4 separate regions of the Homo sapiens genome follow, and all the other regions are linked to region 2. The links come from fine-mapping of genetic effects on gene expression. A gene starts in region 2. Each other region holds a variant in brackets. All regions are shown on one strand. Distances are from middle to middle. Region 1 overlaps THSD4 (thrombospondin type 1 domain containing 4). Region 2 holds the start of THSD4 (thrombospondin type 1 domain containing 4). Region 3 overlaps THSD4 (thrombospondin type 1 domain containing 4). Region 4 overlaps THSD4 (thrombospondin type 1 domain containing 4).

Evidence for each region. PIP is the estimated chance that this variant, and not a neighbour inherited with it, causes the effect.
Region 1: its variant is fine-mapped to the expression of THSD4 in fibroblasts (GTEx, PIP 0.93).
Region 3: its variant is fine-mapped to the expression of THSD4 in esophagus mucosa (GTEx, PIP 0.94).
Region 4: its variant is fine-mapped to the expression of THSD4 in lung (TOPMed, PIP 0.97).

What each region holds. Positions count from the first base shown.
Region 1 is chr15:71,292,515-71,300,621 of GRCh38, forward strand. All of the region lies in intron 6 of THSD4 (thrombospondin type 1 domain containing 4), which reads left to right. It overlaps LOC124903520 (a long non-coding RNA gene), which reads right to left. Exons shown (of 2, transcript XR_007064700.1): 1 at 2,645-8,107; 2 at 1-2,405. Among named protein-coding and RNA genes, the nearest start is that of THSD4-AS1, 110 kb to the left of the region's middle. RefSeq lists an enhancer at 2,347-3,546 and a silencer at 2,796-3,090. The variant G/T (reference allele first, on the strand shown) is at 3,217.
Region 2 is chr15:71,111,533-71,119,639 of GRCh38, forward strand. THSD4 (thrombospondin type 1 domain containing 4) reads left to right here and starts at 3,939. Exons shown (of 18, transcript NM_024817.3): 1 at 3,939-4,166. CT62 (cancer/testis associated 62) reads right to left here and starts at 3,972. Exons shown (of 4, transcript NR_168260.1): 1 at 3,392-3,972; 2 at 2,099-2,231; 3 at 616-762. RefSeq lists silencers at 3,753-3,802, 3,839-4,016, 3,863-3,922, 3,953-4,092, 4,243-4,332.
Region 3 is chr15:71,622,656-71,630,762 of GRCh38, forward strand. All of the region lies in intron 7 of THSD4 (thrombospondin type 1 domain containing 4), which reads left to right. Among named protein-coding and RNA genes, the nearest start is that of THSD4-AS2, 65 kb to the right of the region's middle. The variant A/T (reference allele first, on the strand shown) is at 4,262.
Region 4 is chr15:71,325,155-71,333,261 of GRCh38, forward strand. The region is part of intron 6 of THSD4 (thrombospondin type 1 domain containing 4); the gene reads left to right. Among named protein-coding and RNA genes, the nearest start is that of THSD4-AS1, 140 kb to the left of the region's middle. The variant G/A (reference allele first, on the strand shown) is at 4,031.

The DNA.
Region 1 (8,107 bases), 180 kb after region 2:
GTCTTCTAAATTCTCTGTTGAATTCTTTAATTTTTATGACCATGTAATTTCTAAGACCTTTCTAGTTTCTGATTATTTCCTTCACATAGCATTCTGTTCTTGTTTCATGGATGCACTATCTTAACATACTTTAATTAACATTCTTTAAGAATATAACAGGATTTTTTTTTTTTTTTTTTTGAGACGGAGTCTTGCTCTGTCGCCCAGGCTGGAGCACAGTGGTGCGATCTCAGCTCACTGCAAGCTCCGCCTCCCGGGTTCACACCATTCTCCTGCCTCAGCCTCCCGAGTAGCTGGGACTACAGGCACCCACCACCACGCCCGGCTGATTTTTTGTATTTTTAGTAGAGACAGGGTTTCACTGTGTTAGCCAGGATGGTCTTGATCTCCTGACCTTGTGATCCGCCCATCTTGGCCTCCCAAAGTGCTGGGATTACGGGCATGAGCCACCGCACCTGGCCAAATATAACAGGACTTTTGAAGTTCTTTTTATTTTCCCTGCCTATCCCCTCACCTCCAAGTTCTTTTTGTGTTTGTGTTAACCCTGCCTTTCTTGTCAGGGGCTTTCCCCAGATGGCTGTCAGCTTTTAGAGTATATCCATATTGGACAGGTCGAAAGTTCTACGTGCATGTGCTGCAGATGCCCTGTGCCGTGCAGCTCAGCATGCATAGGTGGGGTAGTTGGTTGATGAGCTTTTCTTTAGGAGAACAGATTTTGAGCTATCTTTTTTTGTTGGAACCCTGCACACAACTGTCATTATGTAGATGGTTTTCCTCTCAGGTGGTTGGTTTTCTCCAGAGAAGAACCCTTGAATCTCCTGCCTGTGGAGGTGGACGTGTGGTTGGTGTTCTGGGTGCCCCTTGCCCTGAGCTCTGTTCTCCATGGTGCCTGTTTCCTGGGTCTGCAGCCCCTTCTCAGTTTCTCTGAAGAGTAAACCTCTCCCCTGCTTGGGGAGGAGCATGGGGGTTACGTAGTAGCCTGGCTGCATAACATGGGCTTAGTAGCTCAGTTTTCCATCATGAACCAGAGCCTCATCTTTCATGGTTCCTGTGCCTCCGAGGGCTGGGCTACTGGGGTGTCTGTCAGTCCAGATGGCTTTGTTCTCAAGTTTCCTCCACAGTGGATATGAATGTTTGCAACTTACACTCAATTACAACGCTTTCCTCTACTTTTCTCCAAGTTTGCTGAAATCTTTATTTGTGGATATCTCCTCTCTTTTTGCTTTGTCCTCATAGGTTAAAACGTTTTAAAATTCCCTAACAGTAGGAAATTTAGTAGGGTTTTGGAAGGGAGAGGAGGTGTAAGATGGTCACTCTTCCATGTTTAACTGGAAGTGGAAAGTCTAGGCTTTTGCTTCAGGCCTGGGAGGTGCACATGAAACAGTCCCTCCCAGTGGCTGCCTGGGGGGTCCCTGAAGGGTGTGAGACCACCGTGAATCCTGGGGCAGGGCACTTGCAGTACATGTGCTATGTGTTTGCTAGTATTGTTTTAGATGTTTGATCTCCTAGCCTTTGCTTTTCTTTGTATTTTTCCTGCTTTAGTCCATTTCCCTTCTAGCTCCTTCTGTTCTCATTTATCTTCTGCTGCTGCTTGGAGTTACATTTTCAGCAAGTCTGTAACACCTCTCTGAACCAAAGGCTCTCAAGTTCATCTTTCTTTCTCCAAGCCTACGCCTGTGCTGCTGTCATGAGTGGCGAGCTTCTGTTTCTTCTGTCTTCTTGTCAGTCCCAAGTGCCCTTTTACAGAGAATGCCTGTTTTTCACTGTCTAGCTCAGTTACCAGGAGTCCCTGTGAATGACACCCACAGGTCCCTCAAAGAAGTCAGATTTCTCTTGGACCTGATAAAGCAAACAAAATGTGACCCAAGCAGGCTGAGTTGGACGGGTCCCTTCTTACCTTCGCCCTCTGCCATGTTGACATTCTTATCTGATGGCACAGGCTGGGAGTTCAGGATCCACTTAGATGGGGTCCGTTCAGGGGATACCAGCGTTCACATTTTTCCTTTTAAGAAAGGGTCTTGGCCTGAATGTTCCCCATCCGGACACAGGCTGCATGTCTCTGTGAGTGTCAAAGCTGCCATGACCATCTCGGTAACCTACTCTTACTCCACAATGTCTATATTCACTGCAGGGCTCTATGATTAGTCCATAATGTAAATGCCTGGCCCAAGACGTATGGCCTGAGTTTATCCAAGGCCCAAACGATTACCAAACATTCCTCTTAGATAGAAGACAGATTTCTTTCCCTTGGCAAAGATCTTCTACTAAGATATGTTACAGGATGTTTTACATTCTCTTGGTCTTATAATAACACCACGCCCAATCCAGTATTTGATGCGTCGGTGGTCACTCGGAAGGTTGTTATTTTAAAAATACTTATTGTTCTCAGTCTGCAGTTCTCACAGCTGTAAAAAAAAAAAAAAAAAATACAGTCTTGTTTCCACCTTTCCAGAGTTTTATGGCACCTGGGAACTGGGATCAAGCTGGGACTGGGTCCAAGATTGGGGTGGGTGAGTGGCGCTTGCGTCAGGGAATGTGAGTGCCCTGCAGGCTGGAAGGGATGCTCTGGTTGTAGCCTTAAGATAAACAGATTGGGCTGGACATCTGTGGTTTCAGATTAGGCAGGAAGGAAATCATCTCCTACCTGGATTACTCAATATCTTCCTTACTGGTCCTGCAGTGATCCTGGGAGGGTGATATGATCGGCTTTGTTTACAGATGGATGAACCAGATGAGTCCCTAGGAAGTGAAGTGACTGGCCCAGGATCACGATGAACTCTCAAGGCCAAGTTTGAACCCAGGCCTTCTGACTCCAAGCCTGTAGTCCTTTCACTGGCCTACAGCTGCTTCCTGAGCCCCTTTCCTGGTTCAGTCAGGCAAAACAAACCAGCTTCCTGCGAGTTAAGGGGGAAAAGGGTTTAATGGGGACTGACTCATTGAGATTGGCAGTCCCCTTTGGTTAATTTCATCAGGTCATCTCCTAGCGTTCCATTTCCTTTTGTGGAGACACAGATCAGAGGCAATCTGGCTCTGTATGAACTCACTTTGTGACTCTGGGTGAATCATTTCCCTCTCTGGGTTTCAGGTTCCTCATTGCACAGTAAGTATATTGGAATTCAGTGGTTCTCAAATCTGCTGGAACGTCAGAATCACCTGGGGACATTTTCTTTAAAAAAAAAAAGCCAGCTCTATTGAGTCACATTTTACAATCAATGA[G/T]TTTTAGTAAGTTTACCAAGTTGTGCAACTATCAGCATAAATCAGTATTAGAACATTTTTATCATGTCAGTAATATCCCCATCCACTCCCACTCCCTGCCCTAGGCAACAAGTAAGCTATGTACTTTCTGCCCCTGTAGATTTACCTTTTCTGGATGTTTCACATAAATAGAATCATGCACTGTGTGGTCTCTTGCATCTGGCTTCTGTTACTTAATATAACATACTTGAGGTTCATTAATACTGTAGCATGTATTGATAGCCTATTCCTTTCTATTGCTCAATAATATGGCAATTGTATGATATGTCACATGTTATTTATCTACTTATCAGTTGATGGATATTTGATCCAGTTGATGAGTCATGAATGATGCTGCTTAGAACATTCATGGACACATTTTTGTGAGGGCGTATGTTTTCATTTCTCTTGCGTATATACCTAGAAGTGGAATTACTGGGTCAAATGGTAACTCTTATGTGTAACTTTTCAGGAAATAGCCAAACTGTTTCCCAAAGTGTCTGTACCATTTTACATTCCCATCAACAATAGATAAGGGTTACCCTCTGGAGAGCTTTTTAAAAATTGTCATTTCTGTGCCCTACCCACCTGAGGTCTGGCATGGGGCCCAGGAATCTGCATTTTATGAGCTCCCCAGGTAATTCAGATACATCTGGTTCGTGGATATGTGTTTCGGCCCACTAAGACCGGATGACCTCTGAAGCCTCCCTAAGGCCTGTTGTCTCTATTAGTCTGTGCCTCTCGGGCAAGACGCACCTTCCTGCCAAGTCTCTCTGGGTGTTTGTCTTTGGATCAGAGAATCAGTACGCAGAGCAGGGCTGAGGGAGTTGGCCAAGCAGCGTGCATAACTCTGCGCAGCACCTGTCCTGCATTATCCTCCACACTGGCCAAGGCTTTGTGTCCCTGGCTTCATGGACATAAAATTTTATCACAGGTTTTTATGTGTTATCACATTGTAAAAGTGCCATAAAATCAAGGGTCCAGTTTTCAGTGCATCTGAAAACGTCGTATTCCTTTAAGTTATAATCTTGGTTGCAGTCATTTTGGTAACTTGTTGAGAAGCCTCATCCCGACCCTGCCATTTATTAGCTATAACTAGATTTTTAATTGCTCCGAGCCTCTGTTTTCTCATCTGCAAAATGAGATTAATAACATCGACATCATGAAGTCTCTTGAAAGGATTAAATGAGATAACCTGTGAAATGCTACTGTAATGGACCTCAGTGCTCTTTTCTTTCTTTTGGCTGTTTCTGCCCCATCCCTGCTTCCATTATTATACATCTTTTCATGAGCTTATTGCCCATTTATATGTCTTCTATTGTTTTTAATGAGGTGAAATTCACATAGCATAATATTAACCCATTTCCTTCACATCCTTGTTATTTATTTTTTTTTAATTATATCCATCCTAGTAGTGGGTGTGAAGTGGTATTCATTGTGGTTCTGATTTGCATTTCTTGAATGGCTAATGATGTTGAGCTTCTTTTCATGTTTTTGTGTGCTTATTGGCCATTCATATATCTTATTTGCAGAAAAATATTTATTCAAGTCCTTTGCTCTCCTCTTCTTTTTTTTGTTTGTTTGTTTGTTTGTTTGTTTGTTTCTGAGACGGAATCTCGCTCTGTAACCCAGACTGGAGTGCAGTGGCGCAATCTCAGCTCACTGCAACCTCTGCCTCCCAGGTTCAAGTGATTCTCCTGCCCCAGCCTCCTGAGTAGCTGGGATTACAGGCACGTGCCCCCATGCCTGGCTAATTTTTGTATTCTTAGTAGAGACAGGGTTTCACCATGTTGGTCAGGCTGGTCTTGAACTCCTGACCTTGTGATCCGCCTGCCTTGGCCTCCCAAAGTGCTGGGATTACAGACGTGAGCTACCACGCTCGGCCTTTTCCTCCTCCTTTTTAAAGACAGTAGGGTGGTCTCACTATGTTGCCCAGGCTGGATTCCACCTTCTGGACTTAAGCAATCCTTCCACCTCAGCCTCTCAAGTAGCTGGGACTACAGCTGCACACGACTGCACCCTGCTCTTTTGCCTATTTTTAAATTGGGTTGTATGTCTTTTTGTTGTTCAGTTTTGAGAGTTTTTTTGTGTGTTCTGGATACTGGAACCTTATCAGATATATAATTTGCAAACATTTTCCCATTCTGCCATTTGTCTTTTCACTTTCTTGATAGTCCTTTGATGCACAAAAATTTTTATTTTGATGGTTTATCTGTTTTTTTCCTTTCGTTGCTCATATTTTTGGTGTCGTATCTAAGAATTCATTGCCCAAATCTAAGGATGTAAAGATTTACCCTTGTGTTTTCTTCTAAGAGTTTTATAATTTTAGCACTTAAATTTAGGTCTTTGATTCATTTTGAGTTAATTTTTGTATATGGTGTAAGGTAGGGTTCTAACTTCATTTTTTGGAGGGGCTATTCAGTTGTCCCAGCATGATTTGTTGAAGGGACTATGTCCCTTTGAATGGTCTTGGTACCTTTATCCAAAATCAACTGATCATAGATACAAGGATTTCTCTGGACTCTCAATTCTATTTCATTAATCTATATGTCTGACCTTACAATAACACCACACTGTCTTCATTACTGTAGCTTTGTAGCACATTTTATATCAGGAAATGTAAGTCTTCCAACTTTGTTCTTCTTTTTAAAGGCCTCCTTCTGTTATTAACCAGCCATCCCACTGTTATTTTGCTACTAGACCGGGGTATCAGCTATGTATACTGTAAAATTAGCTATACATATCTGGTGTCTCTATTCTTTTTCCACCAGATGAGGCTTTATTTCTTCTCTTCTAGTCCCCCCCTTAGATATTTCCCTCCTTCTGTGAGACTGAGACTGACCCCTGGATATGTGCTGACTTTTTTTTTTTTTTTTTTTTTTGAGGCAGAGTCTTGCTCTGTTGCTCAGGCTCGAGTGCAGTGGTGCGATCTCGGCTCACTGCAATCTCTGCCTCCTGGGTTCAAGCAATTCTCCTGCCTCAGCCTCCTGAGTAGCTGGGACTACAGGCACACGCCGCCACACCCGGCTAATTTTTTGTATTTTAGTAGAGACGGGGTTTTACTCTGTTGCCCAGGCTGGTCTCGAACTCCTGAGCTTGGGCAATCCACCGGCCTCGGCCTCCCAAAGTGCCAGGATTACAGGCGTGAGCCGTGCACACAGCCCAGTGCTGACCTTTTATTTCAATCACCTCAATGGCTGGAGAAGCAGAACCTTTGTTGTTGAGTCCCTGGTACACCCTCAGCACCTGCCTGGTGATCTCAGGTTCTGCCCTGTTATTTCATGAGTCTCTAGTCTGAGTCGCCTTTATCTTACTGAGTTGGACAGGAGGAACAATAACCACATAGCAGAATGACCATTAAAAGAGGCGGGAATGAGGTAACATGACTGTTGATGGTACTCATCTAAATGTTTTAATATATTTTGAAGTTTTAAAACTTAAGCCATTTGCAGTTTTAGTTTAAAATTCTTGGTTTCTTCATAGCAGCAAGTTAAGAATTGTGGATGCTTCGATATTCAACTATTTACACTGTTTAGAGAAGAAGCTGTGCTAGGAGAAAGGGGAGAAAGGAAGACCACTGGAGGCAGCCACTCCTCTGTTCTGGGTATTTCACCTCTGCTCTGAAACTTGCAGGCTGCATTGAGCAAAAGAAAAACAATGTGCTTTGTGACAGCATGCGTGAATGTAGAGGACTTTATGCTAAGTGAAATAAGCCAGGCAGAAGAAGACAAATACTGCATTATCTCACTTGTATGTGAAATCTAAAGAGTTCAGTTCATAGAAGCAGAGAGTAGAATGGTGGCTATAATGGGGAAGAGGGAGCTGTTAGTCAAAGGGTACAAAGTTTCAGTTAGAAGGAATAAGTTCTAGTGATCTATTGCACAGCATCATGACTACAGTTAATAACATATATTTCAAAATTACTAAAAGAGTAGACTTCAATTGTCCTTATCACTAAGAAATGATAAGTATCTTAGGTGATGGGTATGTTAATTTGCCTGATTTAATCATTTTGCAATGTATACATGTGCCATAACACATATTGTACCCCATAAAATTCATACATTTCTTATTTGTCAATTAAAAATAACATTGGGCTGGACGTGATAGCTCACACTTGTAATCCCAGCAATTTGGGAGGCCCAGGCAGGATTGTTTGAGGCCAGGAGTTTCAGAACAGCCTGGGCATCATAATGAGACCCTGTCTCTACCAAAAAAAAAAAAAAAAATATATATATATATATATATATATATTAGCCATGGGTGGTGGCAGGCATCTGTGGTCCCAGTGACCCAGGAGGCTGAGGTGGGAGAACTGCTTGAGCTCAGGGTTTTGAGACTGCAGTAAGCTATGACTGCGCCACTGACTCCAGTGTGGCAACAGAGCAAGACCTTGTCTCTTAAAAAAATAAAATAAATTTAAATATAAAATTAGTTTTTTAAAAAAGAACAGTTTAGCAACCACACCCCTTCACCAAGAAACAAAAAAATAATGTGTTTAAGGGGAAGAAAGCAGAAGGCATTTTGATGAACCTCTCCTGTCACTCAGGCATACCTCTGTGGTTGTCATGACCAAAGGCCCCCTTATCAGAGGACTTGCAACCATTTACAGAGCCCTCCTTGGAAGGAGTTCTGGAAAATAGTAGTTTCTCTTCTGGTTAGGTTTTCTTAACGTTCAGGGGCTTTCAAAGCCACATAGGGACAGCTGGGAACTTGAGATAGTTTGATTGCTGATTGTGAAGGATTGGCTTGGTTGATGTTTTTGGATCAAATGCTGTATTTATAGAAGTTTCTCATCACTTTTCTCACTAAATTCCTCAGCACATATTCTAGGCAGGGTTCAGCTTTTTAAACTCTTATCAATCCCCCTCAA
Region 2 (8,107 bases):
AAAGTGTTTTGTTTTGTTTACCATGCCTCCCTTATTTTCTTATTATTTGCTGGGCACAGGCTTGCCTTGACTTTACAGTCTGCATAAGTTTACAACCAGGAAAATGAAAGGAACAATTTTACAAGCATCGTGATGGATCCTGGTACCTCCTTCAGAGCTTGAAATTAGGGGTTTGAATGTAGGTCCATTTTCATCCCACTTCCAAATGCTAGCAACGTAGGGAATTATACGGGGGTTTCCTTTCCTGCTGGGACACAATTCTCTGAAGCACAGTTAGGATGAAAACACGAGGTTTGTAAGAGCTGAGAGCAGTGTTTTTCAAAGTGCAATTTTCAGAACTCTAGGCCCAAGAGATGTTTCGCTGGTAAAAGGATTCCACGTCAAATACATTTGGGACACTCTGCATCATCTCTCCCCTCTCAGGCAATCTCAGTGCTTATAAGTAAGAAAACTGTGTTCCCCATAAGTTTCCCCCCAAAGGGTCCAGCTGTCCTGCATTGCCTTCCTGTAATCTGTTCACACGTTGCTCTTATTCCAGTTCCACATGCCCTGAACTCCCAGAAGGTTGCTCTCAGCAGTGAGCCATTCATTCCTCAGAGATTTGGGAGCCCTCACCACGTGCAGACGCTGTGCTGCAGGCTGGGAACCACAGGAGAAATGGCTGAATGTTCTGTGGGTGTGGCTGTAGGCAGAGGGCTGATCAGTGAGGTGGGGTGGTGACAGTCTTCTATAGGATGTCGTATGCATCATTTATCAACTTAACTAGGACAAGAGAATGAAGGGGGGTACTATTAATAATTAATTAATAATTATAATAGGACAACAGGTGTAAGCTAGAGCTGTCTTACATAGACAGAACTGACACATGACAGAAGAGTTATGTTTCTTGTCTGTCCCTTTAGGAGCTGCCTCTAGGGCCAGTGGATAATAATTACAGGGCAAAAGGTTTCAAGTCAAAATTAAAAGGGAATTTCTAACAAAGAGCCTCTAAGAACAATGTGGCTATTTTATGAGGTAGTGAGTAGCTCACCACATCAGATATGCAAAGGGGTGACCCACCCTCCAAGATGCTGTGTATAGCTGACACTGACATGCCAGGCAGGCCCCCAGCCTAGGTAAGCACAGGCTAGCCTTTGACTGTGATCTGAAGCACATATTCTTGGCTCTCTCTTTCGGTGAGGGTCAGTAAGCTATTTTATATGCAAGGACCACATTCTGCTCTTCTGATTCATACGTGACAGACACATTTGGATAAAAGCAGAAATATAACAGGACTGAAAGATTAAAACTTGCTGTCTTAGCATACTTAATATTCACTGATGCTTACACATAATGTAAATATCTCTTTGTTTAAAATGAGTATAGGCTGGTCTCTGTGGCTCACGCCTGTAATCTCAGCACTTTGGGAGGCCAAGAACGGAGGATCACTTGAGCTCAGGAGTTTGAGACCAGCCTGGGCAACACAGCAATACCTCCTTTCTACTAAAAATAAAAAATGAAAAAAAAATTAGTCAAATGTGGTGGCGCACGCCTGTAGTCTCAGCTACCTGGGAGGCCGCAGTGAGAGGATTGCTTGAGCCCAGGAGGTGGAGCCTGCAGTGAGCTGCAATCATGCCACTGCACCCCAGCCTGGGTGACAGAGCAAGACACTCTCTCAAAATAAATAAACAAATAAAACAAGTATTATCTTGACTTTAAAGAAAGAGACTTTCTTGTGACATATAAGCAAAATATGGTCAAAACAATTTGACCAAGGTTGAAAATGGACTGGAATCACTTCTAAGGAGCCAGCCTAGGTCTGTCGAATCAAGTTTGCTCACTAATAATCATACTTTGGTTATGTCGGATGTTAACATTAGAGGAAGAGGGTGGGGGATATAAGGGGATTCTTTGTACTATTTGTGAAACTTGTCTAAAATTATTTCAAAATTAAAAAATAACAAACAAAACCACATCCTTTGCTCCTGAGCCCTGTTCGCCCCAGACATTATGTGATGAACTCACTCCGTTCTTTAAGATCCAGCTCTGCAGAGCATCTCAGATTCCCTGTCCTGAGGCAGGTACTCCTGTATGAGCTCTTAAATACTTCTGCATTTACCTACCACCTACTGGTATGGTTTTCTGACTATATTTCATCTTCTTCGCCTCACGTGGAGTTTCTTTTAGAATGGAAAGTTTTCTTCCTTTCCTCTTTGAATCCTAGCACCAAGGCCACACTCGGCACTGAATACCTGTCTCGAATGAATGAATAAATCAATCTTGTTTGAACAAATCTTATTAGTTTTGCTTTTTTAAAATTATGGTAAAATGTACATAACATAAAAATTTCCATTTTAACCATTTTTAAGTGTATAATTCAGTGACATTAAGTACATTCTAAAGTTGCGCAGGTTTTTTTTTTTAAATCAGTTCTAAATGGTTTAAACTGGCCAGTATTTACTAGAGCTGTTAGATCGACTTAATTTGGACCCATGAGACTCGTGACACTCAGAATTAATCTAATCCCATTTACACCAGGTGCCTCCCATCAAAATCTGTTTGATCAAGTGTGGAATTATTTCATCCCATTGGAACCAGCTCTTGAATCAATCAGAACTGGCTCTGCCAGGCTCCGGGCCAGTAGTCGGTGCTCAAAATGGTGTTTCTTTCTTTGGCCTAATCTCTTGAGTAGCCTCTTTCCCTTTTGTTAATTTTTTTTTTTTTCTGGAGGACAATCTTCCCTGGGAGCTCCCTTCTGCTCCCACGAAGCGCTCTGCACCCAGCCCTGGTGCTGCCTGGCTCTGGGGCAGGGAGCTTGCATTCTGCCACCTCCTTCATTGTCCTCTCGGTATACCTGCACTTTCAAAACAACCCCTGCAGGCAAGCTTTAGAGGCAGCGATAAACAAACAGGCTGACTGAAATTTAGGGAAACGCCTGTATCTGGACAGCCTCTTCAAATATTTGTCACCCCCTCCCTGCTCTGGGGAAAGAAGAGACAGTTCCTCACAGTCACTCTATTTCCTGCCTTCCCAGCTCTGAACACCTTGGCTCGAATGTAAAGAATTTGGCTCTGAATTAGGACTCAAGAAACGGGGCCCTAGCAATTTTCCCTCCATTAACTAAACGCGTCACTTTGGTCATGCCCTTTTGGGGGCAATAATTTCCCAATTCGTAAAATGAAGGGATCAAAGTTTGATTTTTATCATTACTAATGAGAAGAATTATTATTTTTTTGCAGCAGGCTTTTTTTTCCCCAACAAAATATTACTCTGAATAAGACAAGAAAGAATCCCGAACGGCTCTGGCCGTCAGGGTGTGTGTGTCTCCTCCCCATGCTGTCTAACCCCCGTTGGAATTTGGAGGGCTCTTGTCCTTTCCCCTTGGCCTCAGAAGGAGCCCAGCGCGTCCTACCTTGCGTGGGAGTGTGTGTGTGACCAGGGCTCCTTCCTGCCCTTAGAGTCACCGCCCCCTTCTCGCACAGGTTTACAGCACCACTTGCCTCGCCCACTCCCCGCTTTGCCTCCGCCCCATCCTGATGCTGCCGGAATGGCTGTTCCAAATGGAAGGATGCCCGCGTCCGTCCCCTGCCCCAGTCCTTCAACAGGTCCCCACAGACCTCAGGATAAGATGAACGCGGAATTCAGGGCCTGGTCTCAACCGCCCTCTCCCTTTTCCTCTCACTTAGACGACCCTGGCCAGCTGGGCCACTCTCCACTCTCGCCCCCTCCCGCCCTCGTGGCCTCTGTCTAGACCGTACTCCCTCCTACTGGGTGATGTCTCTTCCCCTGGGACCCAGGGACCATCCCGTTGTTGACCTCCGGGGTCAGGGGTGCGGATGGGGGCCGGCCCTTCCCGCGGTCGCCGCCAGGGGGCGGCAGGAGCGGCTCCAGATGACAGCGGGAGGCCGCAAGAGGGGAGGGAGGAAGGACCGAGGGAGCGCGGATCCCGCTCTCGGATCGCAAACTCTGAGCCAGAGCTCTCCGCGCGCGCCTGAACCGCTGGCCGCCCGCGCAGCCCGACGCGGAATCGGGGCACAGCGGGAGCCCGTGCAGGGCGGGCGCGGGGCGGCTGGGCGGCGGTGGCGGCCGTCCATGCGGCGGCGCTCGGGGCTGCCCGGCGCCGGGAACCACGCGGGGGCGAGGCGAGGCGAGGCGGCCGCCGGTCGCTCCGGGACGCGGACCGCCAGGTGAGCAGAGCCGCGCGCCCCGCGTCCCCTGCGCGCCGCCCGCGCGGCCCCGACCCGGCTTCCGCTGCCCAGGCTCCGGCTCCCGCTCTCTGGCCGGCGGGGCGGGCTGGCGCGGGCTACCCAGTGGGTGTGTCCGGGGCGCCGCGGGCTGCGCCGCTCCGGGCTCGGGGAGCCAGCGCGCGCCTGGTCCGTGCGGACGGCTGCGCCTCCTTCTCTGGTTCTCTTCCTTGCTGGGAGTCTTGCTCTGTGCTGGCGCCGGCGCTCATCCCTCCACCCTCGACTCTAGGGACAGTCTTAAACTCTAGGGACAATCCACCTCAGTCGTCCCCGGGTCGGGGCCCCGTGCTCCCCGGGTCGGGTCGGAGGGGACCGGCGAGTGCACACCCAGCCCGTGCGCCCCCCACCTCAGCCTCGCCTCCCTCCCGCCTGGGGCCCGAGAGCCGGGCAAGTCTCGGTCAGCGCTCCTTGAGTCCTGGCCTGGGGCCTCGGATCTGTGTGTCTGTCTGTCTCAGTTTAGTTGCTGCAACCCAGCGAGCGCCTGGAGCCCGAGTGGATGGGTTGTTTCCGCCAACTCTGGACACTTCCTCAAGTGCAGCCTAAGTACCTGCGGCCCCTTGGCGCACTTACAGAAGTAGCTTTTGCACAGCGAGCTCACCTTGGAGCTCTACAGATCTGGAAGTTAAGTTTTCTTTTTATTTGAAATAACATCAGCCCTCACTTGGGAAGGGGATTTTAGGGCGTTCTCGGGCCCACCTAAGTATCTGGAATTTGTGGTCTAGTAAGTTTTTTAAGCAGTCCGCACCCAGCACCGTACCTCCCAGCCTCCTTTGCCGTCTTACTAAAAGTGCATGCTTGCTTCTCTTCCTGTCTCCTTTGCGATCTCTACCACGCTGCGCTTCGCCCTTTTCGGGCTATGAGTCTAAAGCTTGGACGTGGGTAGCAATCATTGGATGCCTGTTGGAATTTGGAATTAGAGAAATAGATACCCGAGAGAGATCTAAGGAATCGCCTTGTCCAACCCTCCTTTCACAGTTGGAGGCACCCAGGACCCCTGACAGTCTGAAGATTTTTCAAGGATCACACAGCTTTTAAAATCCGCGTGTCTTCTACTTGATTAATATTGTTGGAGGTGATGGAGTAACTGGGCTTACTAGGGTCTTACTGGGTCTCAATATACAAAGAAGCAAACATTTTAAAAATGTGACTTAAAATACGGAACTCTTCAATTCCTATAGATTTTTGTTGGCATCATAGTTGAATTCCTTTAGAAAACAAAATCCTAGCCCTGAAATTAATGTGAGGAAGCAAGCAGATGGGCGTCCTGGGACTTTCCTATAAATCTCTGCAGGGCTGGAGCAGGGATTTCCCAGAGGTCTGGGCCTGGGAAATGAGTTTGGGTGATCAGGATACTGGAGCCCCTTCTGAATAAGCAACTGGGTTGGTTTCTTGTGGGGAGGCTGGCCAGTGGAACTCATGTGATCTCCTCTGTGCCCAGCACTGGGCGGGGCACCAGCTTGGCATTACCTTCTTTTTAGTCTCCTATGCCATAAAGAAATATTTCTTACTGGCTGTTAGCGAAAGAAAAATACAGCCCAGAGTTTGGGAGGAAGATCAGGGGTGGGGAGATTTTTGACTTGGAGTTTGTTTTTGTTTTTGCCTCGAAAAACTTGTGGAGATTGCAATCAGTTATCCTACACAGAGGCTGTGTATTGCCGTCTTCTCCATCCCCCACATTTCTCTCCATGGTACCACTTTTATCCTAATTGCTGGGAGTCTCAATGTTTAAATGTTCCCAACACTCCCATTCTGTCCCCCACATTTATAGCTCATTCATCGCAAAATCTCTTCCACATTCTTTTGTGATATCTGAGGAATTATTTACCTGTCTCCATTCCCACTGCCCCCACCTTCAACCATGTCCAAATTACAGTAATAATCTCCCCTCTTGACTCCCAGCCACGAGTTGCTTTCTTCATTTTAATCCATCTTCTTTCATGCTGATAGATTAATATTTCTGAAATTCTGATTTCACCACATCATTTCTCTCAAGAAATCACAATGGCTCCCCAGTATTCACTTCTATTTAATTTATCTCCAACAGATATTTCTGAGCGTCTGCTATGTGCCAGGGACTGTTACTATGTGCCAGGGACTGTTACTATGTGCTGGAGCTTACGCTATGAACAAGACAATATCATTGCCTTCAGGGAGTCCACAGGCTAGCAGATGATAAATAACCACCCAGGGGAGAAAGGGAAGTAAAGAAATAACCGCAATACAAGGGGGATGTGCAAAACATCAAGGAGATGCGAATGAGGGAGAAATTGATTCTGCATGGGAGGAGCTAGGGCAGTTACCACTGGGCTTTGAAGCCTAAGGAGGAGTTCAAGGAGATGGGAAAGGCTGGTGGGGAGGGAGGACAGGCCAAGCAGAGGAAAGAGCTCGAGGAAAGACTGAAAGATAGGAAAGTACTGTATGGACACGGTTGAATCCAGGTTACTTTTCATCAGGGCATTTAAAATGTTTCCTAATCCCAGTCTACTTTATTGATCCAAGAGCCATCCCAACGCCTTCCTGCTTGAAGGCCATCCCTCCACTCACCCAGTCTCTATCATGGTCTTATCTGCCCTCCCCACACCTCCCATCCCCAGCTCAGAAATTCAGATTTCCCCTCTTCTGATCTAAATTTTGCCAGGCAGTGTATCCCACCCAGCCTTTCTTGCACACACTCCTGTGTCTCTTCCCTGCATTCTTTGTGCCTGCTCTATGTTCAGCCTGGATGAGCCTCGCCTCCCCAGCCACTCTGAGGTTTCCCCCGAGCAGCCTCCTTGGGCCTCTCCAGGTCATGGAACACACTGTCCTCATGTTAGTGGCCCCAGCACACTTGAAAGCACATGACTATTTGCCTGGGTTTGACCCCTCATCTCACTTTTCTCTTCTCTCTCCTCTTCTTTCTGGTTTTCCCATCTTTTTCTTTGCGTGTGTATGCAGAATCGTGATGTTTACTTATGCGCAGATATAAAGGTTTCATGTGTATTTGTTGAATATCCTCGCTGTGAAAATGGATTAAAAATGTTATGCTGGAAGCCAACACATGATGCAGGCTGACGCAGGTGAGGAGAAGATTCAGGGGAAGCTCTGGCTTTAGGCTGCTTTGCTGCCTCTGGCCCCCTCTTGGGATCCCCCAATTTTACTCCTCCTCCGCAGGACCGCTGTGCTGAGGCTGGGACACCCCTTCATCATCTAGGCCTGTTTTGCTCTCTTTTCCTCCTCCTGTCAAAACTTACTTCTGTGCCCACAGCCTCGCTGGCTTGTTAGCCTCACTGGGGCCATGCTTAGTGAGCACTGGTGTGTGCAATGCTTGGGGCTTTCAGTGGTTTCTCTTTTAATCCTCCCAGCCACCTAGAAGGGAGACATCAGCATCTGCCTTGTACAGGAAGAAAGTTGAGGCTTACTTGCCTGAGGTCAGCAGCTCAGGTTTGGAGCTGAAATCTTAAACCCAGCTCTCTAAATCTGGTGTTCTTTCCACTATATCATTATTTCCTGAAACAGTTGTCTTAGGAACATCTGAATCAAAATTCAGATCTGGTGAAAGAAAACACAGGCTCCAGGGTGGAAGCAGGGCTCGAGAACTGGCGTTTTTAAGATTACCTCAGGCGATTCTTCCGCACACCCAGGTTTGGGGACCACTGCCCTGGGCTTCCTTTACAATGTGGTTCTAGCGACAGGTGGTGGGTTAATACGCCACTTTATCCCAGGCAGCATGTTCCTTTTTGACAGAGGCCCTGACTTTGACTCTAAGGAGTGAGCAATGGAGAGTTGTGGCCAAGGCCAGGAAGAGGGTCCTCTCTTTTGGCCCGAGGGGTCTTTAGTTCAGTCCTGAAGGCCCAGCCCCCTCAGCTTACTCGAAGGCATGTAAACCCACCTGCCACCAGACTCAC
Region 3 (8,107 bases), 510 kb after region 2:
ATGTGAAAAGCAGCTAAGGACCAATGGAGAAGCTCAGAATAGCAATTTTTGTAGGAAGTCCTGATGAAGAGTTTATCAAGGGAGATTTTTAAGTCAGTTATGAAGCCTGAGGGAAAGCTAGAAGTTTAGGGAGACCTTTGATCATACAGTATTGGAAATGCAGGATACTGTTAGGGTAAGTGAAGGCTCAGGATAGGCAGAGGTAGCTATGGACCTAGATTGAGGGGAGATTTGTTCAATGGGATCTACATTGAGCTGGGCAGGATTTGGATTGATAAAGAAAATAAGAGCAAGCCAGAGTGAGCCATGTTCCAAGGACAAGGAAGAGGAGTCTTTTCTGTTGCAGTGCTGGTTGGATGGCTCCAGCAGTGCCAGTTGATGGAGGTCTCGGTAATCAGGAGTCCCTGAAAAATATTGAGCAGAGGAAAATGTAATAAAAGCCATATTTTAAGAAAATTAATTTGGTGCCACTGGAAAGAATTGGAGGGAAGGGGTAATGAAGAGGAAAACTGAGTGTTAGGAACACCAATTTCTATTATAATAATCAAGGAGCAAAGTGATGATTAAGACAATAACTAAGGTTACCAGAGTGGTGCCAGTGTTATGCCATTAATGACAACAACTACCATTTATTGAATGTTTATGTGCCAGGCATTGTGCGAAATGCTTTACATAGATTATACTCTTTAATCATCACAATAGCCTTATGAAAGAAGTACTTTAATCCCGTCTTACAGAAGAGAAAACTGAGATTTAGCAACATAAAAGTATTTCCCGTAAGTAAACAGTAGAGCCAAGATCTTGACCTACGCCATCTGATACCTGAGCCCATGCTATAAAAGAGGAGCATTAGAAATATTTGAAAGATAGAAATGAGAACTAGTCAATATTTATTTTGCTTAGCACTGTATTCAGTATTATGGCATCTTAAAGTAGTTAAGACTCAATATTTCATCAAAAAAGTTTAAAATCTAATCAGAGAATCGGCCGGAAGCAGTGGCTCACGCCTGTAATCCCAGCACTTGAGAGGCCGAGGTGGGCGGGATCACCTGAGGTCAGGAGCTCAAAATCAGCCTGGCCAACGTGGTGACACCCCATCTCTACTAAAAATACAAAAATTAGCCAGGCATGGTGGCGGGCACCTGTAATCCCACCTACCTAGGAGGCTGAGGCAGGACAGTCACTTGAACCTGGGAGGTGGAGGTTGCAGTGAGCCGAGATGGCGCCATTGCCCTCCAGCTTGGATGCCAAGAGCAAAACTCCCTCTCAAGAAAAAAAAAAAAAAAAATCTAATCAGATAATCAAGTCTTACAACAGTGAATTAATTCATGAACCAGACAGATGTCATGGATTGGCTTCCCTGGGAAACAGACTTTGAGATTTGTCTGCAGGAGGTCTACTAGGGAGAGTGATCGAGAACAACACGTGAAGGGTAAGGGCTGCAAGAATGATCAGGTCCAACAGATAACTTAACATATCCTACAGGGAGTTCTGGAGCCACAATGACCTTTCAGAGTTGTCCCAATAGAAGCAATGGGACAGGGCCTTTATGCCCCTCCATCACCCAATCAGTGGATACCAGCTGCCCCCAGTGAGAACACTTGAGCAAAGCAGTCCTATGTGGGGGATTCAGCTCTGAGTCTCCAGCCTCAGTCCTGAAAGGAATCCGGACTGCATACCACAGCATCCACAACAACAAAATAGATGAACATGTTATATATTTGAATTATTTAATCTTCAATTTGTAAACACTTTAAATCACATTTTTGGGGAATACTTTCCTGTAAAAGTAGTTTTTGGTGGGGAGGAAATGTCCAATAAATCTGCCAGTATATTTCTTTGCCATGGAGTGACAGCCTTAGTTCTTGATGAAAGTAATCAATATGGAAGGCATTTTGTGTGTGGCTTAATTGAAACCCTGTGTTTTGGACTCATTTGGTGTTAATGTGTAAATCCAATCCTGTTTTCACACCTGCCCTCTTTTTTTTATGATGCCTTGTTCAAGTGGAAGTCTAGTCTGGCTTTTTGCTTCAGTCTAAAGAAGGCCATGGACTGTTGTCATTGGCCAGGAATCCAACTCATATGGTGGCATGAAGTCATCCTTCAAGCCCAGCAAAAAGACCCTGTCAGCCTTGCCTGCAGAGAAAGCCATGTGAAAGATGTCCTGTGCTAGGATCATCTGGTGAGCAATCCATTATACTGTCATTGATCTTGACAGATATTGGGCATACATGTACACCTGGACTTCACCTCCTAAAGAATCTGATTCCTGGTGGCTGGGATGGGATCCAGGCATACTTATTTTTTTCTAGTGGGCCAGTGAAGAGCTTGTTTTGTTGTTGTTTTGTTTGTTTGTTTGTTTGTTTGTTTGAGATGGAGTCTTGCTCTGTTTCCCAGGCTGGAGTACAGTGGTGCCATCTTAGCTCACTGCACCCTTTGCCTCCAGGTTCAAGTGATTCTCCTGCCTCAGCCTCCCAAGTAGCCAGGACTGCAGATATGCACTACCACCCCCCGGCTAATTTTTGTATTTTTAGTAGAGATGGGGTTTCACCATGTTGGCCTGGCTAGTCTTGAACTCCTGACCTCAGGTGATCCACCCGCCTTGGCCTCCCAAAGTGCTGGGATTACAGGTGTGAGCCACCAGCCACAGCCTGGGCCAGTGAAGACCTTTGATAAATCCATCTATTCTACAGGGTTCTTGGAGATGAGATTGCCTGTTGAGTATATTGGGGGCTCTTCAAGAGACTAAATCTCAAAGAAAGAGCTTCTTGAGGAACTGAGGAGTACCATGTAGAAATGAGAAAGAAGGTGAGGAGAAGTTTGAAAAATTCTGCACTCAAATAAAAGAGAAAAACAGGAGGACAAAGGACAGAGTTGGGTACTAGAGACTATGATAAATCTCTAAGATTCTTAGGTCTTCTTGGTTACTGTCATTCCCATATCCATTACTCTTAGATGAAAGTGGTCCTTGTGTTTATCTTGACAAATAGCAAATAAGTGGGACCATGCAAACAAGCATTGGTCTCTTTTATTCATTCATGCAATAAGTATTAATTAGCAGTAACTATATTCCAAGCACTGTGCTCAATGCTAGGAGTGCAGGATGAGGAAAATTTAGTCTGCTCAGGGAGCTCACAATTCCAGGGTGGAGGGGGTGGAGACTAAGAGGTGATAGATTGCTAAGGTAGAGAGGGGCACAGCAGCTGGGATAGCACAGACTGGCAGTCCATAATCCTGTTTAGAGAGTCACGGAAGACTTCCTGGAGGACTCTGCAGGATTAGAAATGGGTAAATCAAATATGGTTTTGTCATTCAAAATTGTGGCACATCTCTCCAGTTATTTAGATCTTCTTTTACGTCCTTTTAGAGGATTTTTATACATTTTTCTACAAAGATCTTATACAGTGTTTGTGAGCTTAATTTCTAAGTAATTCATAATGTTTGGTGCTATTGTGAAGAGTATGTTATTTTGCATTCTTTTTGTGGTTGGTTATTGTTGGTTATAGAGACGTACAATTTATGGTATCTTGTAACTTGCAATCTTTTGGTACTCTCTAATTCTCAGAGTTGTTGGATTTTATTCGGTTTTCTAAGTAAGAAAAACAACATCTGCAAACAATGGCAACCTTTTCTCATGTTTTCCAGCACTAATACTTCTTATTTCCTTCCTGTGTGTTATTGCACTTATATCTTATTGAACAACATGGTGACTGTGGGCATCTTTGTCTTCTTCCAGACCCTCAGTGGAATGTGTATTAAATTTTCTCTTTTGAGAGTGGTGGTTTCTGTGGAGGTAGGTTCTGGTAGAAACCATTTTCAGATTCATAATGTGCCCTTCTGTGTCTAAGTTTTTCTAAGAATTTTTACACTAAATATGCATTGAACTTTAACAGATTTTTAAAGCATCAAAAGATGCTTTATTTAAATTGCATCTTTTGAGATTCCCATATGATTTTTCTTCTGTAGTACCAATGATGGAATGAATTACATTTAGAGATTTTATCCGATTTTGTACTATCCTTACCTTCTGTGATAAAAATCATCTGATTATAACGCATTACCACATTAACATACCACTGGATTTCATTATCTAGTGTTTTACTCAAGATCATGACATTTCAAAATAGGTAGCATTGACGTGTTATTTTCTCTGCTTTCACTGTTCTTATCTAGCTCTGGAATCAAGGACATACTATGTCATTAAATGAGATGGGCAGCTTTCCTTCTTTTTCTGTACTCAGAAACAACTTGTAAAGTGGGA[A/T]TTATCTGCTCCTTGAATGTTTGATAGAACTTACCCATAAAACTGTCTACGTCTAATATTTGAGGAAGGGAGGTAGGACATAGGAAGATTCTCTGTTATATGAATTTAGTCCATGGAGATTTGTCTGTATACATTTTCTGTTTCTTTTGTGTTGGTTTTGACACTCTTTTTTTTTAGGTGTTCATGGAAGAAAAGGAACATGTCCTGAGGTTACAGAAAGGGAAAGGAGAGCTATCCCATTGCTGGGCAGAGGACTGTCAGAATAGATGTCTGTGTGAAGGGGAGTTAAATGTTCCTTCTCTGATCAGTGTGTTCTATTCATCCATCCTAAGGAGGGAACCTCAAGAGGAAGATGTTCAGCTCATATGGGTTTGTGTAGTATGTCACCTCTCCGACATCTTCATCTGTGACAGGGCCAGTAGGGCTGAATCATGGCATTGGCTTTTGATCAGTGACTTGAGCCCCAGGCATCAAAGGGCCAGTGCTACTGAAATGACTTTCCTCAGAGAATCTGAGCTTGCACAAGCTCAGGCCGTACCACAACACCATTGGCTGTAAATGGCAGCCCCTTCACTAGATGAGAAGTAGGTTTAGCTTTTAGAAGGACACATGGGTATCAAATAACCAGTTACTTGCCTTCAGAGGAGTTTGACCAAGGTTATAGGGGTCCAGAAATCTCATATGAGGACCGCCTGTTGGATCTGAGCTGGAAATGACAGTAGGGGAAAAATATTTCTCTTCTTATAAATTAAGAATCCCCATGGAATGAGAATTACAGATTATTTTCAGGGTATTGTACAATAGGGCAGGGGAGAGGAAGATTTTGGTTCAGAGTAAGGAGAGATTTTTTCCAGTTGAGCTGTGAGTCATTTGTCACTGAAGAGTTTAATTATATGGTGGTTTCAAGCAGAGCATCTCCTGGGTCAAGGCAGAAATTTGGTTTTCACAATGAACAGGAACTTCATGTGGGGGTTACCAGCAGACTATGTTTTCAGGAAGACAAAGCTTTAGAAAGGTTCACATATGGACAACCTGATAAACGTTCGCTGGGCCCTTCCATATTCCAGCTAAGCATTCTCTTACCCTTAGGTAAGTGGCAGAGTTTGGGTGCCCCAGAGTCATGGGCACACAGTAGGATCACCTGGGAAACATTCAACAAGTTATCATGGCCAGGCCTGTGCCAGCCCAAGTCAGTCAGAGTCCTGTGGGTAAGGCCTGGGCATCGGTAGCTTTTCAAAGCCTTCAAAGTGATTCTAGGATACACTCAGGGTTGAAAAGGAGAGAGCTTTGAAAGGAGGGAGGATTCCATTGACAGAGGAGCAGAAGCCTTGGATCATCTTAATTTCATTAACAAGGGGGTAAAAAAGGAAAGGCTGAGAATGACACACAGCCTTACTTGAAACCTTCTTAACTGGATAGTTTTATGTTCACACTTCCTCATGTTTCATAGCAACCCTATGCATTATTTATTCTCATATTAAATATGAAGACACCAGAGATCAGAGAAATTAACTTATCCAAGGTGGCGCAGCAATCAAGGAGCAGAACGGGAATTTGAAGCAAGGTGCACCAGGTCTCAGCCCATTTGGCAGAGACCAGGGCTGCTCACCCTTTGGGACGCATACACGAGTCCCCTTGGGATCTGGTTAAAATGCAGATTCCTCTTCAGGAGGTTTAGGGTGAAGCCTGAGGTTCTGCATTTTTAACAACTCCCAGGCAATGTTGATGCTGTTAGTTTGCAGGTGACACTTTGCGTAACAAGGGTGTCAATACACTTTGAGAATCGAATCTTGATCTTGATGGAGACGTTCAAGAGTCTTTGATTACAGATGAATTTGGTGACTCTTCCCCAGGTGAGAAAACAGAAAATCCATGCAAGTTTGGGAAGCCCCCACCTTGACTCACAACTGCTGCTTGTCCTGCTGAGGCACCAGCCAGGCATCCCCGGGAAACAGGCAGAATGAGGCTGGCAGTGACAGAAATATGGTTGGTCATCCAGCCATCTAACTAATATTTATTGAGTGCCTATGGTGAGCTGGAGACTGTTCTAGACACTTGCGATGCGAAGATAAACAAGGCAGTTTTATAATCTAGTGGTGTGTGTCTAAAGCAAAACAGTTATCACGGGGTTTGGTTACGTTTGTAACTTACCAGACCCTTGAAACACCCTGACTTTTCTCACTCTGTCAGCCTCTACATCCAATCTGTCACCGGGTTGGCTCAATCTGAATAAACAATGTAGTGGAACGGCCAGAAAACTCATGGGGGCTCCCTCTGCATGAACAGCAGCATACTGAACTGGCAGTAGAGACCCGCACTGTCTGCCCAGTAAGGCTGAAGCTGGACAACTGACAGCCTTCAGGTCTCCCAGCCTTATCTCAATGTGGATTGCAACAAACTGGGCCTCATCTAGGGGGCAGGGCGGCCAGACAGTAGAGGAGACCCAAACCCTTTTGCATCAAGCACTGTTGAGAGACCTGGCAGTGTGGACCCTGCTTCAAGACAGAAGAGCCAGTGGGACCCTGAGGGCCTTTCCGCAGCTGCTGGGCCTCCGTGTTCCCTGTGTCTTTCAGGCCACACTCAGATATCACCCGCCCTAACTATCCCAGCTAAAGCGTCCTCCTCAGTCACTCTCCATCACATTTTCCATTTGTAGTTTCTTGAGAACTCAGCTCTAGAGGATGTGACACATAAAGAGATGCTCAGGCCCCCTGGTTGTTCTTTTGTGATGTTGGGTAGACTTGCGTCTTCTACCTCCCCACACCCCACTCCACATCCCATACCTACATTGTTGCCTCAGCCTCCCTGTAAGCTTCTCTTTGTTTATTTACCTCCCTTGCCCCCATCCCAAATCAAATCCATCCTATATGTAGCTGATAGCCCTGCTTTTCTATACTTTTTTCTCATTTGGGATGCGTGGTTTGCAACCTCAGCTCTCAGGAGCCTATTTCCTCGGGTTACTCTGGCTGTAAGGTAGTGATGGCTTGGCTCTGGAACCCTTGGAGGCGCCTTTGTACCCGCAAGCCACGTGGCCAGGCCCTTGTGTGCTCAGAGAGGGGCCTCTGTCTCTCTTGGCCGGCTTTGCTCCTCCTGTCTCTAGTTGGAATCTCTTGACATTTTCCACTTTCCAAGCATCAAACTTATGTCTTTGTAAGCTGGCTCTCAATCATGTTCTTTCTTTTTTAAAATTTGTTGCTATCTAACTACACTCTAAAGTCCCCCAGTAAAAAAAGAAAACAAACAGACAAAAAACAGAAAATTCTCCTTTAATCAATGCTTGCTGTCTTAACTGGTGCTTCAGACAAGCACTTCTTAGGCAAATGGATGACCACATGGCTATTCCAGGGAGGGGAAACGGGGATGCTAAATTGGCACAGAGCTCTGCTCTGTCTCGTCACGGCACTGCCTTTGATCTTTAATTTGAGCCATTCTAGGCAGGGCTCAGTATACTCTGAAAACACACTTTGTGATTAAAAAATGTGCAGTACATCAGCCAAAACATTTGTTTATATTTTACCCCCAATTTTGGGGTTTCTTGTCATGCTTTCCTCAAAAACTTTCTTTATATAATTAAAGAGGTGTGAGTGCTCTGAGCATGACTGTGCAATAGAATACAAAGCACAGTTCCCTTCTCTGAAGACAGAGAAAGGTTTTTCCCCATCTATTCAAGCATGAAGTCTGTAAGGATATGGCACAGCGACCTTCACTGCATTGTTTCTGGAATGGTAATGACAGTCTGGGCTGTCCAGGAAAGAGCGAGCTTCACAAAGACTAAGGCCCTTCCAGGAGGGTCTCTCCCAGCTCTGGGGATCCCCTCAGAGACACATGGGTGTTTGAATGCACCAG
Region 4 (8,107 bases), 210 kb after region 2:
AACCAACCCTTCTTGCTGAAGATGTGGGTTATGTATAGATTTGACTTGTCATGCCCAATGTTGCAAGAAACTCCTCATACATGTACAGGAATCATATCTCTCATCCAGAAAAATGAGACTGTTATCTGTAACCTCCAGTATGCTATCCTCCTTTTCCTTCCATTGCAAGACCATCAGCTTTCTCTTTATTCCTCAGTTCAACAGTCTCTGAGTACTTACCCAGTGCCAACCAGTCCTGAAGCTGACACTGGTGATAGAGAGATGGCCAAGAAACTGATTTTGTCTGCATGTATGTAGAGCTGACAGCCCAGTGGAAGGAAGGAGGCAAGTGTGGGGATGAAAAGGATGCAAGGAACCTGGATACCAGAAATGTCCAGCTAATGTTCTAAGGGAGTTCAAAACTGGGATATGTCACAGTCACAGTCCTCCCTGGAATTCAAGTCAGAGTACAAGGTTACATGATTTGTGATTATTGCAAACCTCAATTTCCACATTTGTGCAATGGACTGTCAGTACTGACTGCTTAGGAATTTTTTTTCGAACCTCTTGTGATTGAGGCTCAGCTATTGAAATGCCAAGCCCAGGTCAGAGATTAGTCAGAGGAAATGCTAAATTAGAGCCCATTTGACTTTTATGTATGACACTAATTAAACAATAACAAAAAAACTCCAAGAACTCTAGATAGTTTGTCCAGGGGACACCTATAGGTTATGATAACATCAAAACCAGAACCAAAAAAGCCCAAATATTTTTCCTGGGAACTTTTTTTTCCTCACCCCTGAGTAATTCTAATAATATGCATGTAAAATACATTATGGGAAATCCTCTAACAATTTCCACCTCTGTGATAAATGTTGCATTCGAGTAGAGCAAGAACATCTACTTAATAATTCCATATAACTATTCTGCAAAGCTGCCAGGAGCAGAATTTAGTCAGTTGGGTATAGCACGAAGTAGATGGCGTGAGAGAAAGAAAGAAATGGTTTGAACCCAGACTTGGCCACTAATGTGACCTAGAACAAGTGATTTAACCCTCCAAGCTTTGGTTTCCTCGTTCACAATGTGGAGATAAAAAATGATACATACTCTACAGGGTAGTTGTGAGGGGTCAATGAGTAAACTACATGTCAAGGGCTTAATGTCAGTAACAACCAGAGTGTTGCTGGTCCAGAGTGAACACTCAGAAAATGGTGGTGGTGATGATGATAGTGGTGGTGATGATAACGGTGATAGTGGTGGTGGCCGGGCAGGGTGGCTCATGCCTGTAATCCCAGCACTTTGGGAGGCCAAGGCGGGTGGATCGCCTGAGGTCAGGAGTTTGAGAACAGCCTGGCCAACACGGTGAAACCCCGTCTCTACTAAAAATACAAAAATCAGCCAGGTGTGGTGGCACACACCTATAATCCCAGCTACTCAGGATGAGGCAGGAGAATTGTTTGAACCTGGGAGGTGGAGGTTGCAGTGAGCCGAGATCACGCCACTGCACTCCAGCCTGGGCAACAGAGCAAGATTCCATCTCAAAAAAAAAAAAAAAAAAAAAAAAAAAATATATATATATATATATATATATATTAGCTGGGTGTGGTGGCACATGCTTGTTATCCCAGTTACTCAAGAGGCTGAAGTGGGAGGATCACTTGAGCCCAAGATTGAGGCTGCAGTGAGATATGATTATACCACTGCACTGAAGTTTGGATGCCAGAGCGAGACCCTGTCTCTAAAAAGCAAACAGGCCGAGCATGGTGGCTCACGCCTGTAATCCTAGCGCTTTGGGAGGCCGAGGTGGGTGGGTCACCTGAGGCCGGGAGTTCAAGACTAGCCTGACCAACATGGTGAAACCTTGTCTCTACTAAAATACAAAAATTAGCTAGGCATGATGTTGGGTGCCTGTAATCCGAGCTACTCGGGATTCTGAGACGGGAGAATCGCTTGAACCCAGGAGGCAGTGGTTGTGGTGAGCCGAGGTCACACCACTGCACTCCAGCCTGGGTGGCTGAGCGAGACTCCATCTGAAAAACAAAACAAAAAACCAGCTCAAACACTCCAATAGACCACTTCATTCCATTCCTTCTTTTAATTGTTCATGGTGGCCTTTTCTCCCCTGTGAAATACATAAATTCCCATAGTTATGGAGGGGCTCACACTGTCCTGCCACCGGCCTACAGTTTCAAACAGCTCCTGTCAGCTAAACCTTAGCCGCCTTCCACCAGGTTCTGGAACCTCCCTTGGGAAGCCTTCCCTGACTGACCTGACCCACCTAGAACTTCCTTTCTTGGGACTCCCTGAACCACACACTTTATAAAACCAATTCACTAATGCCTTATTATGTTTTAATATGTATAATATTTATTTTGTCTATGAAAGTTTCATTGCGTTTGTCTTCCTAATAAGTTAAAGCTCTAAGAAGTCAAGAATTCTGTTTTATTTACTTTTTGAATGCCATTTCCTTTCTTTTAGAAACCCCCATTCCCTTCTTGTCACCCCCCACCCACTGTGGAAAAAAAAATTGTTTAAAGCACAATGCTGAATGTATATGGCATTCAATGCATAAAGCTGTATTTGGATTTCTTTTTTATAAATCTTGATTTTTCTCTTGCCCCTTTTGCTTCACCCTACTCCCCATATCATGTGCCTTCAAATATACACAAACACAACCTTTTGTATTTATATATAGTGACCTGCTTGCAAAAATAAATGTGTTAACAATGTAGGGCCTAGGACACCTGATACCATTTGAGCCTCAGAATGTATTAATTCAGCCGGGTCTGTGCAAGAATGGTGATTTTTCAATTAAACATACTGTAGCAATGATGGCCTCTTTTCCCACAAACTTACTAAGGTAAGGAATGGGACAAAAGTAAAGCCACCTTCTTTCCTCCATTACAATAGGCCGTGTCCTCCTTTCTCAAACCTTGGCTCAGAGGCGAGGCTTGTAGTTCACTGCTGCATTCTGCTGGGAGAACCATGGTGACCCTCTGGGTCATGGTCCCGACTGGGACACCGTATTTTCGTGCTTCTTGTTTTTATTGTTCCTCTATTTCTTTTTCTTTTGAGTCCAATCTTCAGTCAAGCCTTCCGTGTGAATGATAGTGGCCACTTGGGGATCTCCATCTGCATTTTATTGTATGGCCACGCAAAACCTTTTATCTAATTCCTAGAAGACATCGATTGCTGCATAGCTTGGTGGGTGAAGAATGGAAAAGCACAATCTCACTTTATTTTGCTGGTGGCTTTGCCCTCCCTTTCCTACAAGCAGTCATTCAGGCCTAATGGTTCTGTTCCTCCTAATTATTCATTTGTTCATTCGTTCATTAATTCATTCAGTCTGCCATTCAATATATATTTATCAAGCATCCACTATGTTCCAGGTGCGATTCCAGGCTTCAGAGATAGAACAGTGAATCAAACTGATAATGCCCCCCTCTCCAGGAGCCAGCATTCTAGCGAGAGAGAATGACTTGCTGAATTGTTTCAGTTGGAACTTTTTTTAGACTCTGAACCTTGGAAAAAGTCCACTTTCCATGGGCTTATTAAATGTGCTGAATCAGACAGTTGGTGCTGTTTACTAGAGATCAGGGTTCAACCAGCTTTAGCTGCATGACCCAGAACATTTGATTTTATGATTTACAAAATAAAAAGTTATGGCCCTCTGCAGATGTCCCATCTAATTTGCTCATTGTGTTCCTTAGAGGCAATGTGGTATTGTGAAAAAAGCAAGACCAAGCTTTGCGGTTCAAGTGGCCCGTGCTTGCTGGGCCTCAGTTTCCTGATCTGTAGAATGAGGCTGGATAAATCTAAGTTTCTCTCCAACTCTACAGTCTGATGGTTCTAGTACTACAAGATCAAGATTTTTTTCCTAAAGAGCCATTTGTCTTATTTTAGCTTCAAGCCAAGCCAGGGCATCTGAGAAATACCAAGCCTCCGTTGTGATGTGTCGCCATGAAAATGTTGGCTGCCCTCTGGATGCAAGTCTGCTTGTGCTGTGCTGTGGCTCAGAGTTAAATTTAGATAAAAATCAGTTAGGAGCTAA[G/A]AATATTCCCAGCTTTCCTGACAGGTTGTATCCATCATTATGGGAGGAAAAACAAGGAACTGGCTGCCTGGCGACAGGGAGCGGGCCAGGCTGAGTGTGAGGTCAGGCCTCGGCTGGAATCTCACGGACTTGAAAGGACAGAGACGTTTCCTGAGATGTCTGCGGCAGAATGTGGGAGGCTTCAGCCTGAGGAAAGTTCAAGTTGGAGAGAAAGGTTGCCAGACCTTTGAGTGACCCACACTGCTTATAACTTCTAGAAGGTTCTTTTAGGGAAACCTGCTTAGAATGAAACCCTGAAACGTCCTTTGCTGCCTCCTTAACAACTTGCATTAGAGAGTTTCTTCAGCCAAAAGGCGAATGTCTGTTGAGTGGAAAGGAGAGGACGGAGTCGATGTTGTCCCCTGTGAGATGTCATGTCTCAGGCAGTATGCTGGACATTCCCGAGACGCCAGCTCTGCTCAGGTGACTTGTGTGCCCTGCCCTTGTAAGCCTCGAATTACTCATCGTGAAATTGAGGTCAAGCCACTCACTCACAGACAGGGCTGTGGTAACAATAAAATGAAGGGTGCTTAGCACATTGAAAATAACTCAGGCAGTGTTCCATTATTGCTATGGGCTGGGCGTGGTGGCTCACGCCTATAATCCCAGCACTTTAGGAGGCCAAGGTGGGTGAATCTCTTGAGCCCATGAGTTTGAGACCAGCCTGGGCAACATGGTGAAACTTCATCTGTACAAAAAATAAAAAATTAGGCAGGCATAGTGGCACGTGCCTGTGGTCCCAGCAACTAGGGAGGATGAAGTGGGAGGATTGCTTGAGCCTGGGAGGTCGAGGCTGCGGTGAGCTGTGATAGCACCATTGCACAATCTAAACTGGGCCACAGAGCAAGACCTCGTCTCCAAAGGAAAAAAAAAAAAAAGACCACCATGATTGTTCTAGTATTGTTTATTGTTGTGCCCTCCTGGGCCAAACGAGGAGGGGTGGGAGCTGCCCTGGGTGTGCCTATGAGGAGGGCCTTGTGGTCTTGTGGAGTCACTCAGATGTGCTTTCAATCTGAGCTCCCCCACTTCCTAGCTATAGGACCTTTGTTAAATTCATCTTTGAGTCTCAGTCCCCACTCCTCAGAAATGGGTATGACATGTACTTTCTAAAGCTATTCTAAGAATGGCATGCAGTTGTCATTAATTAAAACACGCAGCACACGGTAGGTATTCAACAAACATGGGGAATTGTGTATCATCGTCAGTAGAGGATGCTCTCAAATTACACTAACTCTGCTAAAATCCAGGCCAGGATTGTGATTCGTTGGGAAGCCTTGGGGAAGTTGCTTCGCCATTCTGAACTTCAGTTTCTTCTTCTGTAAAATGGAAGTAATAACAATAGTATCAGCTTTCTATAGTTACTATGAGGATTAGATGACATAAGGCATGTAAATCCATTAGCAGTGTCTGGCATGCAGTAAACCCCTCAATAACTGTTAGCGCTTTCCTTCCTGCCCCTCTCAATTCTTCCAGGACCCAGGTGAAGAGAACAGTCCTATGCTTTGTTCCTTCTGATGTACAATACTGTCATATAAACCCACTCATTTTTTTCTCACTTTCTCTCTCTGCCTCTGCTGCTGCTGTCACCAGTCCATCGCTCTGTTGGTTGCCAAGAGTAAGAGAGCGACTAGGTTGGTAAGTAATTTCAAATAAAACAGACACCAGTCTACACACAGAGCAGAGGTTTGAGTGACATGGACACTAACCCGTTTACCGGGTGCCACTGGCGATCTGGCCTTGTCGAGGAAGGAGGGAGGCTGTGCTAATTTGCTCTCCCACCTGTGTGGCTCCCGGGTGTAGACAGAGCGTTGAGCTCATTTCTCCTGCGCTCCTCTCAGTGGCCTTTGGCTGGCAAAGCTGTTTGTCTCCCCTTCTAGTTTTCTGCTGCAGCCATTTGGACAGTGTTGATTAGTTTTCCTGAGGTGCTGTTTGGGCGTCTCCCCAGCCACCTAGGTACAGATGGAGTGTGTTTGGCTTGTGATGGTGACAGAGGGGCGGCTGCCCTTCCTCGTACTTCTTCTGGCATTGAAGAAGCAGCTCTGAAATCTCCAACTGGGATAGGCCAAGAAAATTTGGATGTGGATACATGAATGCCTGGTTTCCTCTGAAGGTAGTCAGGTCTCAGGCGGCCAAGATCACTGGGAAGAAATGTGACTTTGCATTTGAAGTTCTCATTTGGGGAGACTTGGAGTTATCAGTCTCAGCTGGCTCCAGCCCAGAACAGATTAACTTTTATGAAATGATTGTCTCCAAACACACTTACTAAATGCAAAAACCTGCTGTGGCTCCACAGGCACCATGGGGCGGGGTGAGCTGCAGAGCTTCACTCTAGCTGGGATTGCTCTGCAGTCTGGCCCCCAGAGCATGGTGGGCCGGGAGGAGGAACCCCTGATTTAGATGCTGAAAACCTAGGCTTTGCTCTTGGCCCACCACTAATGAGTTGTAGGACCTAGGGAAATGGAGAAAGGCATACTGCTTCACAGGGAACACCTCAGGGCCCATCTCCAGGACTTTTTGTGGAGGGAATGGGAGGCCTCTGTGGCATTTTGATTCACAAATAGCTAATATTGAATTACAATGCATTCCTTGCCCCCCCCTCCCCACCCCGTGACATTGGACTGCCTACTTGTCCCTTGAACTTCAGCTTTTTCATCTGTAATACAGACATGATAAAATTCTGTTTGTCAGCATCTTCCAGGAAGCAGACATCAAGACAGGACTGTACATTCAAGGATTTTATTAAAAGAAACAGGTTAGGAGAATGGTCAGATAGCAATGCAAGTCTGATCTCTACTGAAGGAAAGAAGAAGGGGCAGTTGTAGGGAAGGGTCCTAGATTGCCAAGGAGGGTCCACAATGCCATCAGGGAGTCCTGCAGCCAAACTCAGCTGTCAGAGGAGTCCCATGTCTCCCAGGAATAGGTTTGTCTCAGTACCCCTGCTGGGTTCCGCTATTGCCTCTGGAATCAGCCCATGAGAAGTGCAGTCTGGTGCCCACACAGCTACAGTGATGGATTTCAGAGCACAGCAGCTGGAGCCGTTGGTCAATTTCATTGCCTGTAGTTGGAGGTCTGCGAAGAGCATTGATTCTCATGGGTACCACAAATACCTACACTGCCAGACGGCTATAAGGATAAGAGATGAATGTATGGTAAGTCTTACTTAAAGGATGATGTATGTGTGTACATGGGTACGTGTCTGTGTGTATATTCTTGGCTGTAAAATGCAGAAGGAGTAAACTAGACATGGAATCAGGAATCCTAGAAGGAGAAAAGGACTCTGCTCCTGGCCTTCAAATTTGCCCCTTAATTTAATCCTTCCCTTAACAGGGAAGTCAGGTACCCAAGGTCACAAAGTTAGACTGCAGCATGCCTCGGATTTGAACCCCGGTTGAAGTCTTGTGATGTTAACATTTTATGGCCCGATTGCTGTCACAGGCTTAAGATAGGGACCATTCAACCTGACAGCAGACGTCTCTCTCTCTCTTTTGCCATACCTAGAATTATGCCTGATATGCAGAGAGTACTCGCCAAATATTTGAGTGATGAATTCATTAACTGCAAGCTGAGCCCTTTAAACAAGCTTGTCCAACCCGTGTCTTGTGGGCCACATGTGGCTCAAGACGGAATGTAAATTTGTAAACTTTCTTAAAACATTGAGATTTTTTTACATTTTTTTTTTTTTTTTAGTTCATCAGCTATTGTTAGTGTTAGTGTATTTTATGTGTGGCCCCAGACAATTCTTATTCCAGTGTGGCCCAGGGAAGATCGGACACCTCTGCCTTTAAGCTTGGTATCTGGTCTAGCTCACCTAGACTCCATTTGGGTATTCCCCCCTTTTAGGCCTCCCTAATAGTGCTGTTCCTATGGGGAGGCTGGGATGCTTAGGTGAGAAGGACATCTTCCCTTTTTGCTGCCCACGAGGTGGGGGCATAAAGAGCCACTTGTGGCTAGAAAAGCAGGTGCATTGCAGGCATTAGCAGCTCAGCCCAAGAGTGTGAGCTTCCTTTCTCTGGAGTCTCTAGGCTGAAAGGGTCTTGG